Linked DNA regions of Homo sapiens: regions 2, 3 and 4 are each reported to be linked to region 1. Evidence: microRNA targets listed by miRTarBase, many of them from high-throughput screens and not tested one by one. Region 1 holds a microRNA gene; each other region holds the end of a gene's coding sequence.
The links. Region 1 holds the annotated microRNA hsa-miR-520d-3p (AAAGUGCUUCUCUUUGGUGGGU, at 1,674-1,695, opposite strand). A microRNA usually pairs through its seed, bases 2 to 8, with sites in the 3' UTR of a target mRNA and lowers its output. Matches are read on the target gene's strand: a 7mer-m8 pairs with bases 2 to 8, a 7mer-A1 pairs with bases 2 to 7 and ends in A, and an 8mer does both.

Region 1 (4,149 bases):
CCAGAGTCTAGGCTGACTCTAGAGGACCACGTGAGATTAGGGGCGGTGGCTCACGCCTGTAATCCCAGCACTTTAGGAGGCCAAGGCTGGTGGATCACCTGAGGTCGGGAGTTTGAGACCAGCCTGCCCAACATGGTGAAACCCAGTCTCTATTCAAAACACAAAAATTAGCTGGGTGGGGCAGTAGGCACCTGTAATCCCAGCTACCCAGGAGGCTGCGGCAGGAGAATCGCTTGAACCCAGGAGGTGGAGGTTGCAGTGAGCCTAAATTGCAACACTGCACTCCAGCCTGGACATCAAGAGTGAAACTCCATCTCAACAACAACAACAACAATAAAAATAATAACTAGCAGGACACGATGGCGGGCATCTCTATTCCCAACTATTCGGCAGGCTGAGGTGGGAGAATCGCCGGAAGCTGGGAGGCGGAGTTTCCGGTCAACAGGGATCCTGCCGCTGCACTCCAGCCTGGGAAACGGAATGAGAGCGCATCTCAAAAAATCAAAAATAAAAAGATCACCACTTGAGCCCAAGAGATCTCGGTTGGAGGTGCCACCCACTCCCGCCTGGGCAACAGGGAACCTGTCTTGGAAAAAAACAAACCAAAGAGAACCCCAACATCATGCAAGTCTGATGATAAGCACGCTCTGCAAATGTATTACCAAGATCAGCAGCATCTTCAACGTTGCTTTTCTCAAACAGTAACACTCTAAAGGGATGCACGATCTTTTCTTAGACAACAGACAGTGCTTCCATCTAGAGGGTCACAGCATGAGGTCTTCTTGCTCCAGTACTGTAGGGTTCTTTTTTTTGTTTTTGTTTTTGTTTCTTTTTGACGGAGTCTTGCTCTGTTGCCGAGGCTAGAGTGCAATGGCACGATCTCGGCTCACTGCAAGCTCCGCCTCCTGGGTTCAAGCCATTCTCAAGCCTTAGCCTCCCGGGTAGCTGGGACTACAGGCACCCACCACCACGCCTCGCTAATTTTTTGTATTTTTAAATAGAGATGGGGTTTCACCGTGTTAGCCAGGATGGTCTCGATCTCCTGACCTCGTGATCCACCCGCCTCGGCCTTTCAAAGTGGTGGGATTACAGGCGTGAGCCACAGCGCCCAGCTTTTTTTTTTTTTTTTTTTTTTCAGACGGAATCTCACTCTGTCATCCTGGCTGGATGCTGTGGCACAATCTCGGCTCACTGCAGCCTCTGCCTCCCGGGTTCAAGCAATTCTCCTGCCTCAGCCTCCTAAGTAGCTGGGATTACAGGTGCCCACCACCACACTGGGCTAATTTTTGTTGTTATTGTATTTTTAGTAGAGACGGATTTTCACCACGTTGGTCAGACTGGTCTCAAACTCCTGACCTGAGATGATCTACCTGCATCGGCCTCCCAAAGTGCTGGGATTACAGGCATGAGCCACCATGCCCGGCTTTATTTTGTATTTTTATTCATTTGTTTATTTTTTGAGACAGAATTTCCCTGTGTTGCCCAGGCTGACCATTTGAAGCCAAGAGATATATTGGACATGTCACTGCACTCCAGCATGAGCAACACAGAGCCTTAGAATAAAAAAGCAAAACCAAAACAGAACCCCACCATCGTCCAAGTGTGATAAGCATGCTCTGCAAATGTATTACCGAAATCAGCATCAACTTCAACGTTGCTTTTCTCAAACCGTAACCCACCAAAGAGAAGCACTTTCTTTTCTTTTAGACAACAGAAAGGGCTTCCCTTTGTAGACTCACAGCTTGAGATCTTCTTGCTCCGGCACTCTGGGTTTCTTGTTGAAATTTTCCTTGACCTGGTCAAAATGGACACAAAAATAAAGATGCATTTATTGGTCCTGTTTGCATATTTTCTGGAATCTAGAACATAAACCGATACAAAGACCATCTCCAGTTCCTTGCTTCAAACGTTCAGCAGGTTAGCCTTGTTCATCGAGGGACAACTGTCCTGGGTTTTGTCTTCAAAGAGAAAAAGCAACGCCTACTACATATACCTTATATTCTCAGGAGTTAGACACCAGCCTGGGAAACATGGTAAAACCTCATCTGTAAAAATACAAAAGTTAGCCAGGTATAGAGGTGCATGCCTGTAGACACTAATTCAGGAGGCTGAGGTGGGAGGTTGAGGTTGCCGGGAGCCGAGATCACACCACTGCACTCCAGCATAGGTGACAGGGCCAGATCTTGTCTCAAAAACAAACGAACGAACAAACAAAAAATGCACACACCAACAAAAAAATGCCCAAAGTGATATAAGAGTATTCTCAGGGTGTAAAAGAGTCTTTTGTGTGTACATGATATTATATATATAAGAATATATGAAGGCCAGCCGCGGTGGCTGTCTGCAATCCCAGTACTTTGGAAAGCCAAGGTGGGCAGATCACCTGAAGTCGGGAGTTTGAGACCAGCCTGACCAACATGGAGAAATCCCGTCTACTAAAATACAACAAATTAGCTAGCCCTGGAAGTGTATGCCTGTAATCCCAGCTACTCAGGAGGCTGAGGTAGGAGAGTCGCTTTAACCCAAGAGGTGGACATCGCAGGGAGCCCAGATCACACCATTGCACTTCAGCCTATGCGACAAGAGCAAAACTCAGTCGCAAAAACATAAAAAATAATAATAATAAAAGAAACTTCCATATATTGTATGCTCACAGGAAGAATACTTCCTACACACAAGTGCTAGCTTTGGCAGCACGCATGAAAAAATTGGAATGACAAAGATTACCATGGGCCCTGCGCAAAGGTGACACTCAAATTCATGATGATCTCATATTTATCTATTTTTATTTTTTAACGTTTAATGTTTATTTAATAGTTTTATTTATTTATTTAGAGACAGAGTTTCACTCGTTGCCCAGGCTGGAATACAATGGCACAATCTCGGCTCACCACAACCTCCGCCCCCTGGGGTTCAAGTGATTCTCTTGCCTCAACCTCCCGAGCAGCTGGGATTACAGGCATGCGCCACCATGCCCGGCTAATTTTGTATTTTTAGTAGAGATGGGGTTTCTACGTGTTGGTTAGGCTGGTCTTGAACTCCCGACCTCAGGTGATCCGCCACCTCGGCCTCCCAAAGTTCTGGGATTACAGGCATGAGTCACTGTGCTCGGCCTATTTATTTAATTTTTGAAACAGAATCTCACTCTGTCACCCAGGATGGAGTACAATGGTGTGATTTCGTCTCACTGCAATCTCCTTTTCCCAGGTTCAAGAGATTCTCTTGCCGTGGCCTCCCAAGTAGCTGAGATTACAGGTGTCCACCACTGTTCCCAGCCATTTTTCCTAATTTTAGTATAGACGAGGTTTTGCCTTGTTTGCCCAGCTAGTCTTGGACTCCTGACCTGAGGAGATCCGCCTGTCCTGGCCTCTCAAAGTGCTGGGATTACAGGAGTGGACCACCGTGTCTGGCCTATTTTTTATGTTTTTGAGATGGAGTCTCACTCTTTTTGCCGAGGCTTGAGTGCAGTGGCGTGATCTCAGCTCATTGAAAGATCAGCCTTCCAGCTTCAAGCGACTCTCCTGCCTCAGCCTCCAGAGTAGCTGGGATTACAAGCATATACCACCACCATGCTGGGCTAATTTTGTATTTTTAGTAGAGATGGGGCTGCACCATGTTGGCCAGGCTGGAATCAAATTCCCGACCTCAGGTGATCCTCCTGTCTCAGCCTCCCAAAGTGCTGGAATTACAGGCGTGGGCCACTGTACTCTGCCTGGTGCCATTATTAAAACTAGGAAAAAAGAAAGATGCCCACACCTAAACAGCAAATCATTTGTTGTTCAAGTATGTCTCAAATGCAGTCTTCATCTAAAATACTAATTTGACTGGCGGCTAGGTGTGAACCAAAGAACGGTCCTTTCTTTCCTCTTGCCTGTGCATGGTTAATATTCACATGTAGTCCCAGCTACTAAGGACTGGGGAGAGGTGGAGGCAAAAGGACCTAAGCCCATTTTAGCCTGGGCAGCATAGTGAGACCCCTGTCTCGTTGCACATATGACCTGGTCGTGCAGCCAAGAGTTCAGCTGCATTTACCCAGTGAAAACTCAAAGCCATGCACTCCACCTCCGTGCCCCAGTGAAAACTCAAAGCCATGCACTCCACCTCCGTGCTCTTGCTAAGCAGGGCACATCCCATCTGCAAGGGACAATG
Region 2 (4,000 bases), not on the chromosome of region 1:
AATTGAAGCTCTACAAAACCATGAAAATGAGTCTGTGTATAAGGCTTCGTTAAGCTTAATTGAGAAGTATTTCTCTGTAGAGGTGAGTAATGGATGGTAATATTAATAACAACTTGGAAACATAAAGTCAAGGCCATAAGCCTTTTTTTCCCTTTTAAAAATAAGTGTCATATCTTTGTTAAATATAGTAAAATATCAGTGTGCATGGGACATAATGTACTTATTTGCCCCTCTAGTTTGGCTTGATGGTAATAAAATCTTTTTAAACTGAGATTTTAAAAGCCACCAGATTAGTTTCAAATGAACAACCTTGAGAATCTTAGAATATCTTGAGGGTAAGTTAACGGGTGTCATTGTAGGAGGTGATAGAGAAGTAGGCCAAACTCATCACCATGCTCTGGGCCTAATACAGTCTTTTCCTATTGAAAAGTGACGGTTGGGGAAGAAAAAAATCTCGGCCTGTTTGTGTTACTGTAGTAGCTAGCATTTATGAATTGGCAAAGTTTCAGAGACCCTCCCTCCTCTATGTCAAATACTATAATATCATACAGGATTAAAGGTGTAATATGCAGATCAAGACCTAGAGATTAAATACAGACTTCAGGTAGGCTGCTGCTTGGAATACTTATATCATTTTTATACTTATTTTTTAATATATTTCCAGGAAGAGGAAGATCAAAACGTTGTACCAGAAACTACCTCTGAAGGCTACACTTTCCAAGTTCAGGATGGGGCTCCTGGGACCTTTAACTTTTAGATCATGTAGCTGAGACATAAATTTGTTGTGTACTACGTTTGGTATTTTGTCTTATTGTTTCTCTACTAAGAACTCTTTCTTAAATGTGGTTTGTTACTGTAGCACTTTTTACACTGAAACTATACTTGAACAGTTCCAACTGTACATACATACTGTATGAAGCTTGTCCTCTGACTAGGTTTCTAATTTCTATGTGGAATTTCCTATCTTGCAGCATCCTGTAAATAAACATTCAAGTCCACCCTTTTCTTGACTTCACCATGCCTATGTGTTGCTTTCTAATTTGGGGCCTTTAATGTTGCTAGTGAAAGGTAACCTGTCCAAACTGATGGGATTAACCAGAGGTAGTCCTGGCTGCAGTTTTTGCAGAAGAATGAATAACATTTTCTGGAAACCCTCAGCCAGTGTCTCCTTAAGTCTCCTTGGCCAGGGAGATGGGCTAAACACCGTAAATTTAATCATAAATCTCTGCTGGAGCTACAAATGGAATTCTTTCCTCCCAAACTTCAAGGCCGAATGGGGTTCCAAGGTAAATCACGGCTGCACATGGGCCTCATCTGGGAAAGTACCCAGTTCTGTTTCGTTGATGAGGGGCATGAGGGTCCACCATGTGTCTTTTTTAAAAATGTAATTCCCAAGGGCTCCTGTACAGTGTAGGTTGATAGCCACTACTCTTTGAGATGGTGTCTCGCTCTGTCACCCAGGCGAAACCCTGTCTCTAGTAAAAATACAAAAAATTAGCTGGGATTACAGGCATGGTGGTGGGAGCCTGTAATCCCAGCTACTCAGGAGGCTGAGGCAGGAGAATCGCTTGAACTCCGGAGGCGGAGGTTGCAGTGAGCTGAGATTGCGCCACTGCACTCCAGCCTTGGTGACAAGAGCGAGACTCTTGTCTAAAAAAAAATCCCCTTTGATAATATATCTTTACCTATAACTTTAATTTTTGTATTTGTTTTTGTTGTAAGCAAGGGAGGAAAGGTAATATTCCTAATACCATTTGGCAATTATAGTAAAAACTGCTGACACTTACTTTGCTTGTTGAAATAATCTGAAAAGAGTAACATTAAAAGATGTCAGTGTTAAACATTTCACAAAGTATTCTTTCATTGCTATATTGCATTTTGGCTAAAAATAATCAGGCTACTTGATTATTTTTAGAACAAAGGAAATCAACATTCTGTTTCCTAATGTTGATTTTTTTTTTCTCTCATCAATCTGGCTGCATCATCACTGAAGAAAAAACGGGGTAATTTTTCGTTACTGTAAATCCTTATTGTTAAGATTTTTTATTTCAGCATTTGGCTGCTTTAATTGCATAACAGCAGTAAGAGCAAAGTCAGTTTTGTTCATAGGAGCCATTGGAAACCTTGTCAGATACAGGACCCAAGTTCAGAAGGCCATTAAGGCCTGGCTGCTCCTTACCCCTCTCCACCCTTGCTGGAGCTTGCCAAAACCCAGTGGACTGATTTTGGAAAGCCCTTGAAACGTGTCATTTCACTAATGGTGCTTTCTTTTGGGATTGGGCTGTTGACCTAATTTGTGATGAACAAAACCCGGCCAAATCATGCAGCCTCCCTCTAACTCCCCATGGGAAAGTGTTAGAGAAAAGTGTTTTAGCAACATCACCCATTTAAGTTTCATAACCCCAGCTAATAAAAATGATAAGAAACACCCAAGCTATCAACTAGGGTTTTTTGAGGGCAGAAGTGCAATTTAATTTTGAGCACTTGCATGTTAAATGACATGTTGGCATAGTTTGAAAGCTAATTCTAGTGTCTGAACGCTCAGTTCCTCCTAAATATTTGGGACAGTTTCATAACACTGTGTAGGAGGTGTATGCATCGAACCCTCTTAAACTGATCAGTTCGTGCGTTCCAGGCTTTTCACAATCGTAAATGTCTTTTCCCATCCTAGTTGTGGGAGGTAGCATGGTGCAGTGAAGTGGACTAGTATTTAAGAGCCAGATCTGTCTGAATTCAAATCCTGCCTCTTTATTGTGTCAGTGAAAGACCTTTTGGTGGGGCAGCTAAGTGCTGGCATAAGAAAAGTATAGATACTAATTCCTACATAATAGAAATATCCTAGATGAGTATTACGGCTATTCCAAACTTTTTGTTTTTGGGAATAGCTGTAATAACTGAAGAAACAAAGTTTCGCTGTGTTGCCCAGGCTGGTCTCAAATTCCTGGCCTCAAGCTATCCTCCTGCCTCAGCTTCCCAAAGTGCTGGGATTTGCAGGAATGAGCCACTGCACCTGGCTGCCTCCAACCTTTTAACACCAAAGATTTCTGTTTGTTCTTACATAGACTCTTGTTTTGATATATTTTACCTTCTAGGCTAAGTTGATTATTACTCTTCTTTTTTTTTCCCCCTTATCAGTCAGATACACATAACATAAGATGACCATACTGGATTGTTCATATACTTAATGATGGGATTCTACCGAAAAGTCAGATGTTTTGTCAGCCTTTAGGTCTTTTAGGGGCTTGGCATAGCTTTCTGAACAGTGGAACTGGCTCAAGGAGGGCCCACTGTGACTAAGTTCCTAGACTGGCTGTTAGCCTTTGCAGTATCTCAGTGAGAGGTCCAGCTGTCTTCCTGTGCCCACTGGTTCCCTTTCTCTTAATTCTATTGGACGTAATAATTGGAGCACCTCCTCCCCTAACTTCTCATTGGCCATGAGAACAGGACTGAACCACCCAAGTCCAACTTGGTGATGGAAGCTTGTCAGTATCAATACCTGATAGGCCCCTAATACTAGTGTTAATGAAGTTTCTTTAATGAGCAAACACTTGACTGTTGAGACAGCCACCACAAAGCCATATTTTCTACTATGAAGAAACTCATGTTTAGAACTTGAACAAGTTTAGGCAGAAATATTGGAAGCTTATCCATAAAAACAAGGGAATATGAGGAAAGATTGGATGAATGAGAAAACTTTGAATCAATTCAAAATTAAAATTAATGGTCAAAGGATGATATCCAGAAGGCATCTCCCGATTGTGGCTGCAAAAATACATATTTTAAAAGCAAAACTGTTGAAATAGAGGAGAAATGTAGAAAAACATGTACGAATGAGATGGTCTTTTTCTTTTTTTTTGAGATGGAGTTTTGCTCTCGTTGCCCAGGCTAGAGTGCAATGGTGTGATCTCAGCTCACTGCAACCTCCGCCTCCCAGGTTCAGGAGATTCTCCCGACTCAGCTTCCCGAGTAGCCAGGATTACAGACATGCACCACCACACCA
Region 3 (4,000 bases), not on the chromosome of region 1:
GCTAATTTTGGGTATTTTAGTAGAGATGAGGTTTCACAATGTTGGCCAGCATGGTCTCGAACTCCGGACCTTGCATGATCCGCCCGCCTCGGCCCCCCAAAGTGCTGGGATTACAGATGTAAGCCACTGCGCCCAGCCAGCTTTCCTTATTTTTGAAAAATGTGAGTCAGGCAATATTCTTTTGCCATTCCCAACTCATATTCCTGGGGAATTGTGCTCTAGGTACATGGGAAAAATTTTTACAGTGAACTGAAAGAATATTTGAGATGCTATTTTAGCCACTCTTGTGTAACAAGGCAAGTTCGTTGGCTATGTTGGTTTAGATTTTTGTCAAACTTCGTTGAGGAAACCTAGGAACAGGGACTGCAGGAGAATAGGACACTAGCTGGATCATCTCAAGAGAACCTTTAGATCTTCCATACTAGCTGGATCATCTCAAGAGAACCTTTAGATCTTCCATTCTGTGGAGGCTGGGAGAGGGGTCTTGTTGTCTTTGGGACTGTTTTGGCTCAAGCTTTTCAGAGAGGGGTTGTTCTAGGTACCCCCAGTTTCCTGTCCTCTTTCCATCCTTCCTTGGCCTGCATGTCCCAAACCTTATACCACCATGCCCTTAGTGTTTTCTGTCTTGCTCCAGGACCCCATCTTCTTAGTCATTGAACACGAGGTTTCCTGTCTCAGATCCTCTTCACCTCCGGTTCTCCAAGGTGTAAATGTGGCACTTGATTAGGGAGAAGAGCTCAGCACTGAATTCTAAACTCTTTGACCGCTTTTATTTTTTTTTTCAGGTTCAAGTGCTGGATTGTGTCATGTGACCATCCCAAAACTCAGAGCACCCTATGGCCGTCTTTGCCCTCTGTCACATAACTTGAAAACTGCCTGATGGCCTTTTTGCAGTGGTTCCCTCCAGGAAGCCTTGATCTCAGTTGAAGAAGTTCTTTCCTGGCATTCCAATGCCCCTGTCAGCTCCATACTCCTCAGACACCCTTAACAAAGGCTGTCATGCACACAATGTGACAAATACACAAAATAAATGATAATTACACTAATAATGATATGTTCAGAGGGGCACTGGCCAGGTCCACACACATCATAAGGTGGGAGGGGGTGCTAACTCCCACTGGGTTGCTGAGCTGTGCCCCCCAAGTCCCTTCACTCTGTGCCTCTTTGGGGGTAGGGAGGAACAGGGGAATGAGACTTCAGCTCACAGATTTATGTTCATAAGAGAAAGACCCCTGCCCCCCCCCCACCCACCACACACACACAAAGGTCTTTATTTGGTGGTATTTAAGGAGCTGTATTCTAAGTGTCCCCCATATTTAATGCCCCAGCTCTCTAGAATCTGTAGAGGGAAGATACCTGATGCTTATTGCCCAATCCCTACTCTGCCAAGATCACGAGGCATTTGACCTTGGAGGGAGGTATCTGTTCTTCACTTCTCTGTTCCTTTCCTTCCACCAAGGAAATGTGAGTGGTGTTGATGGCCGGGTGTGTCTTGTCCTTCAGGATTGGGGCAGAAGGAAGGATGAAGAACAGGGCCAGAGAGGCTTGGGGTTAGCATAGCTGCTATATGGGTGAAGGCAAGCTGAAGAGCCTAACAGCCCTGCCCATTCCTCTACTGAAAGATCTTGTTTCACTTTCTCACTATAAGAATAGGAATAAGATGTTAAAGCTCACCAACATCACCTTCTCAAGGGTGGTCACATACCTTTGCCCCTTCCACCAACTGGCCAAGGGGGAGAGTCATGCTCTTGGGAAGAATGAGCCATCCAGTTTTGCTCACCAGCTTGGGCTTTACTTTAGTTCAGTACTGTTTTTATCAGACCCGTAACTGCTGGCTCTACTTAGAGTGACAGTTTTGCTGAAGATTCTTACCCCCACCTCTCCTGACATCCTCTAAGCTCTTGCCTGGAGCCAAGAGGCCTGGTGGTGAAGTAAGGATAGGGTGTGGATCAGGAGATTCTCAACTCCTTGGCTTCTAGGCACTGTCCAGCTGGGAGGCAGAGGGGAACTTGTACTCTGAAGCCTGTGACTCCTCTTAAGCCTCACATCTCTTCACCACTACTCTGGTGCCCTGGTTATCTGTCCCACAGCGAGAGGTATTTTATGTCCATAAAGTGCCCGTGGTAAGTGCTCAGAATTCATCTCTTGGCTGTGGCGGGTGCTGTCATTTCTCATTCCATTGAGGGGAAGAAACTGAGGCACAGTGAGTCCAGAGGAGAATGGGTCAGGGTTGTGGGAGGAATGAATGGGCCTAGCTAGTGACTTGAAATGGCAACCAGTCTCTGCCTGCTTCCTAGCCTTCCAAGCCCGGGAGTCTCCATCCTTCCCATCCTCTGTTCTAACTGGCCTTGTCAGATGCTTTTCCCCACTGTACTTTCCCCTCCCTGCTGCCAGGTACTGTTAGATTCCAAAAATAAAAGGAAAAAATAATTATACACTCTGCTTCCTTGTTCTCCCCTCTTCCACCCTGAGCTTTGGGGTTAGGAGACTAAAATGTCCCCCTTCCAGAATCCTTCCCACCTTGGTCTGCTGGCTCTATTCCCTAGCCCAGAGCAGTGATTTGGATTCAAATGCCCTGTAACCTTCAGCCTCCTTACTGCTCCTTTCTTGACCTCTCCTAACGCTTTCCAGACCCAGGGGACTCTGGGGTCTCTATACTCTCTCTAATTGACCTGAAGATAGAGGCTGGGAGCAGGGCCATTCCAGAGGCTCTTTGGTCTCTCTCTTGGCTGAGGGAATTTGGGCATAAGCAGGCTGCACCCTCTGGCTAAATAACTCAGCATCATGAGGGTGGACCTGAGGGTTTAAAGTAGCTCTCATTATATAGATCCTGGATGTTGAGGGTTCTCTCTCCCACCCCCGCATCCCCAGCTCTTAAACCCTAACCTCTTACTATTTCCATGACAACTGGCTTCAATTCAAGCCATTTGGCTCAGAAAAGGTTGAGTTAGGGTGATGATGGGTTAGAAACTAAACTTCATGTGTCCGCCCTCTTGCCCTTTACTCCCATTCCCAACCCTGGAGGCTTTATACAAGTGCTTAAGTGAGTAGGTGTTGGGGAGAGCAGGGTTTGGGGAATAAGGGATAAACGGGGCACAGTGGGCAGGGGCCCTCCTATTCCAGTAAAGCCAAATACCAAAAAAATGAAAAGTCACAATAAATAAATAAATAAAAATTCCCAAATCTTTTTGCCCCTGCCCTCACTTCCCCTTCCCCTGGCCACTGTTGGAGGGAGAGAAGGAGAAAAGAATGGATTTTTGATTTCTTCTCCTACTGAATAGTCAGGGGATCTCCCCAAACTATACCAAGCCCCTCACCTTGCCAGTGGAAGAAAGGAGGCTTGGTGTGGGGCTTTCATTTATTACTCCATTTCAGTCTCTTTCTCAGTGTTTTGTCTCTGCCTCGTCTGTCTCTTCTGCCTCTCTCTTTGCCTTCTCACTGCTGCTCTTTTTGTTCCTCTGTCTCTATCACTGTCTCTACATCTCTCTGTCTTTTTGTCAAACCTTCTCATCTGCAAACTTCAAACACTCCCCACCCTGACTATGCCCCTGCTTCCCCTTTCCCCCAAACCCCTCACCCTCAATTCCCACCTGCCTCCCTCTGTTGTATTGCACACGGCTTGGTCGGGGAACGGTGTGATGTTCGCGGGAAGAGTGGAGGGAGCTCTAGGGCTTGGGGGGATGGGGGCAGGGCTAGGGGTCTTGGGGTAGGGTCTGTGGGGGAGGCATCCTCTATCCCCCACCTTAAGAGCAGCCACAGCGATCCACCACCATGCCAGGGATCTTGCCGTAGATAATCTGCTGCTTGTCATTGAAGTAGAGCATGTTGATTGGGGACATCTTGGTGGGGGTACAACAGGGCCCAGCAGAGCCTCTTGGATTGGCCTGCTGCACCAAATGGGTATGCGGATATTTTTGCATGAACATGTACTCGCACTGGCCGGAGCAGTAGTTGGCCTTGTAGCGCTTAGGTGCGATGATCCAGTCCCAGCCGAAAGCCT
Region 4 (4,000 bases), not on the chromosome of region 1:
TCCACCTCCCAGGTTCACGCCATTCTCCTGCCTCAGCCTCCCGAGTAGCTGGGACTACAAGCGCCCGCCACTGCGCCCGGCTAATTTTTTTTGTATTTTTAGTAGAGATGGGATTTCACCATGTTAGCCAGGATGTTCTCAATCTCCTGACCTCATGATCTGCCCGTCTCGGCCTCCCAAAGTGCTGGGATGACAGGCATGAGCCACCGCGCCGGCCAAGAGCTGCTTTTTCATTTTCTGAGAAAATGTCCCTCAAGATGCTTTGCAGTGATCTTCATTCTCAGGTTGGAGAGAAAGTCTGCAGAAGAAATAGTGGCAGCCACAATCTCCAAGTAACTTTAAAACTCCGACATCATAGATCAATCAATCAAGACCCTGTTACCACTGCCTGTGACACGGCGCCTTTTCTACCTGCACGCTCAACCCGCTGTCCCACTGGCAGGGCCTGCAGTGCTGGTCCTCAGTGCAGCTCCCTGGTTAAGTTCTTGCCAATGCGCTAGGCCTCCGGTGTGCTCAGAAGAGAGCATGAAGTAAAAAGTCAGTCAATCAAAATGAAAATGATACTCTGCATTCCATTAAAATTAATAAAAATATTTTATTGAATTTCAGGAACTTGGTACTTTTTTAAAACTTCAAATCTTTGCACACAAATCACCACTATACTTTCTAGAATAGTGGAAGTTAGGACTTCAAGATTGTCACTTATCTCCTTGTGTCACACAGCACAGAAACCCCAAGTCCTCACACTGCCCCCACCCCCCTTCTGGCCATGACTACCAACTACTCTGTTATTCTAGCGGAGGACAATGACGGAAGTGGGTAGACGACTGAAGGAGATCAGCTGTCCACCGCGTACTCTACTAAAGTGAGAGGAGGAGCAACCGAGGATCATGCCGCACACACTCTGAGTGCACCACGTGACGTGGGTCATACGGGAGTTCCCTTTTGTTTTCTCGTTTGGTTCAGGGCAAAGCTACTGAAATTGTTCCTAGTCCCTGAGGAGCTCAGAAGTTGGGCAAAGGTCACAGCAGACTTCCTGAAAAGCAGACACTGAGGAACACAGTGGAGAGCGGGAGTTCACAGCGACGCAGCTGAGGACGACGCAGGACCTCTCCCAAAGGTGCTGCAGCTCCAGCACCAGGGGCCAGGGCTGCGGCGACAGCAGCTCAGCAACCCTTGCTGTGCTCAAGTTCTTGGGGATTCAGAGCTAAGTTCAAAATTTAGAAACAGTGCCTTAAAGACGGGCAAGAAAACCCGGTGTGGGAGTCTGCTCATCTATGGTTTGTTACTGCTCTCGCTTCGATATTCTTAAATTCCTAGGTACCAATGAAAAAGCCAAGTGAACGTGGCAGAGTGAGGAGGAGACAGGAGCGTGTGCACCTTCCATCTGTGAGAGGCACACTTCAGTCTGGGTTCAAGATGCAGAATGGTGCCTACGGCAAAAAAAAAAAAAAAAAACACCCTCCTCCCTTCTTTACCATTTGAATGGACATTTTCCTTACCTGTGATCCCAACAGAAACAGATCCAGACCTATCATGTGAAGTCCACGTTCCAGGATCAGAAGTAACCAGTTTATGGACTGAGCTTACACGGGAAAGTCTACCCCCGACTCCTTCTGGATAGTAACATACACAGCTGCATAAAAACGTCTCCAAGGGGACATACGATGCATTTGCTTGGTGTCCCAGCCAAGCTCCCCACCGGCGACCTCACTGTTCCTTAGAGCTCAAGAGCTCGTCTCCTATCAATCAGAGAACCCCATCAGCTGTGACCAACAGAGCTGGAGCCCTCTGTGGAGGGAGCTGACCCCACACACAGGACAGAGCAGAATCCTGATTATTTTACAAACTGCAAACCTTCTGAGTAAGAAGACAAAAATATACATTCCAAGGTATCTGTAAAGTGCTTGGAAGATGCAGACAGCTGCACCGAGGGGCTCTGATCCATCCACACGCTGCGCTTTGCTGCGGTCACACACACGGTCTCAGTCACGTGATGGTTTTGCTTTTATTTCTTAAACGGCTGAGTGATAATCCAGCTAGTGTGCAGTCATTTCATACCTTTCAATGGGCGTCACCGCAGTGACGCTGCCCCAGCCCCATGCTGAGGGCCGACACAATTCACGGAACAGATTCATCATATTTGGTCTTTATGTAAATAATAAATGTTTTAAAATTGCCTAAATATACCATTCTGAGCCATTTCATCCCTATTTCATCCCACCAGGAAAATACAGGTTTTTTCCTCTCTAAAAAAAAATTAAATACCAAAATAACTACATTTAAATAAATAATGTTATGATGATGACATTTAAAAGCTCAGCCATCAGGCTGACGCCCTCTCCCCATGTGCACGGCCCTCGGCCCTCGGCCGGCACACTCGGGAAGGGCCAGCGGTTTTCTTCCTGAGGAGCCGGGCGAGGAGGTGCAGGGACCTCCCACTCTCATTCCCTCACCCCCGTCCTGTCCTCATTTTCCGTAGAGGAGTCAGCCTCAGGATTGGGTTCGGTTCTGAAAGGTCAGGGACATTTCCTACCACAAAACAGGAAATGCCCCAGACGTGCCCTGCAGGACGTGGCTCGGACCCTGCTCCACCATGGCGGCCGCTCACCGAAGGTGGGGAGTAGACAGCAGGTCAGAGGCCGCCTAGAGCCGGAGGGACACCCCAAATACAAACATACCACGGAGAGACCTGGGATCTGAGTTTCAAAAGGGCCTGTGATAAAAGACTGAATCTTTTTCCAAATGAAGTAGAAATGGTTCTGTCGTTTTAAACATACACAATACTTAGGAGACTTGTTTTACTCAGAGTGGAAAATTTTGCCAGGGACAAAGTCAACACAAAGAAACAAACAACAAAAAATAGCCAGAAAGAGAACAGTTAAGTGCAGCTCGGTGAGTCCCGGCAGTTCCTTCCCGGCACTGGCTCGTCCCTGGGTTCTCAAGGTTCCATGCGGCCACAGCGTCCGTCCACCTGTCCACGCGAGCCACATGCTGAAATGGAGGTGGATAAAATTCATCAGGCAGCTGCTGTAACACGGAAATGTGCAGATGCCAGAGTAGCTTCGTCTGAACTTGAACAAGACAGACAAAAGGAAATCATTCCATAGGCTGAAAACAAAAACAAAACTACGTTGTTTCTTTGCCCCAAATGAAATCCACGGAAAGGGCCTGTGTGATTCTGAAAGTCTCAGTAGAAATGGAGTGATGTGAAATGCCCAAGACCCCATTATTTTGTAAAGAAAGGACACCTCAAAATACTCTAATTCCACATGTCTCCGCTGCCTGGTGGGTCCTGTGAGGGCGGCGGGGATGGCTCCCCCCGCGTCCTGAGGCCTAGTCTTGGGAGACCCACTCACAGCAGGCGCTGGCCGTGCCGTCCTCACACAGCGATGCCTGGTCCTCGCGGGAGGACAGAGTTTCACTCGTAGGTAGAAGCTCAGCCCAGCAGGTGCTCAGTGGAGACACCGTCTCCCAAATCAGGTTTTGTTGTGTGTGGGTTTTGTTCAAGTGTGACTTCTGTCTTTAAGGAGTGTTAAGGCCAGCTGGGTTTTGGGTTTTCAGTGCTGAGAGGTGAAGTCCAACCACAGGGCCCTGCACCCCCGAGTGCTGGCGGGAGGCCGCGTCTCCTTTTGGCACCACAGAGTTGATATCGTTAAAGAAAAGCTCTCCCGGTCGCTAGTTCTGGACACCCTTTTCCCTTACGGCTGCCGGTGGCGTGTCCACGCTCAGGGCAATGACGATGCCCTCGCCGTCTTCTGTCTTGATCCGCTTCAGCTCCGGCTGCTCCGGCTGGTCACCGTTGTGGCGCTTTGTGGGCAGGGAGGCCGATGCGGATGCGTGTGTTGCCAACATGTGCAAAGGACTCGCCGCGGCTGAAATGACACGAGGGAGTCAGAACCCCACGCTCTCACGTGAACCCTCGCGACTCAGAACCCCACGCTCTCACGTGAACCCTCGCGAGTCAGAACCCCACGCTCTCATGTGAACTCTCGCCCTC

Region 2: the mRNA of KPNA2 is a reported target of hsa-miR-520d-3p. Seed matches in the 3' UTR shown: 7mer-m8 at 858-864.
Region 3: miRTarBase lists GDF11 as a target of hsa-miR-520d-3p. Seed matches in the 3' UTR shown: 7mer-m8 at 3,034-3,040, 8mer at 2,125-2,132, 7mer-m8 at 790-796 and 7mer-m8 at 100-106.
Region 4: the mRNA of FOXK2 is a reported target of hsa-miR-520d-3p. Seed matches in the 3' UTR shown: 7mer-A1 at 2,883-2,889 and 7mer-m8 at 1,902-1,908.

Annotation. Positions count from the first base shown.
Region 1 is chr19:53,717,695-53,721,843 of GRCh38, reverse strand. MIR520D (microRNA 520d) reads right to left here and starts at 1,748; the gene lies at 1,662-1,748. It overlaps MIR517B (microRNA 517b), which reads right to left and starts at 768; the gene lies at 702-768. It also overlaps the pseudogene RNU6-803P.
Region 2 is chr17:68,045,840-68,049,839 of GRCh38, forward strand. It overlaps KPNA2 (karyopherin subunit alpha 2), which reads left to right. Exons shown (of 11, transcript NM_002266.4): 10 at 1-82; 11 at 665-1,015. The coding sequence ends at 757. Among named protein-coding and RNA genes, the nearest start is that of KPNA2, 12 kb to the left of the region's middle. RefSeq lists a silencer at 2,401-2,601.
Region 3 is chr12:55,749,626-55,753,625 of GRCh38, reverse strand. It overlaps GDF11 (growth differentiation factor 11), which reads right to left. Exons shown (of 3, transcript NM_005811.5): 3 at 1-4,000. The coding sequence ends at 3,744. It also overlaps a transcript of SARNP not described here. Among named protein-coding and RNA genes, the nearest start is that of GDF11, 8.5 kb to the right of the region's middle.
Region 4 is chr17:82,601,178-82,605,177 of GRCh38, reverse strand. It overlaps FOXK2 (forkhead box K2), which reads right to left. Exons shown (of 9, transcript NM_004514.4): 9 at 576-3,875. The coding sequence ends at 3,679. Among named protein-coding and RNA genes, the nearest start is that of FOXK2-AS1, 15 kb to the right of the region's middle. RefSeq lists a silencer at 2,047-2,156.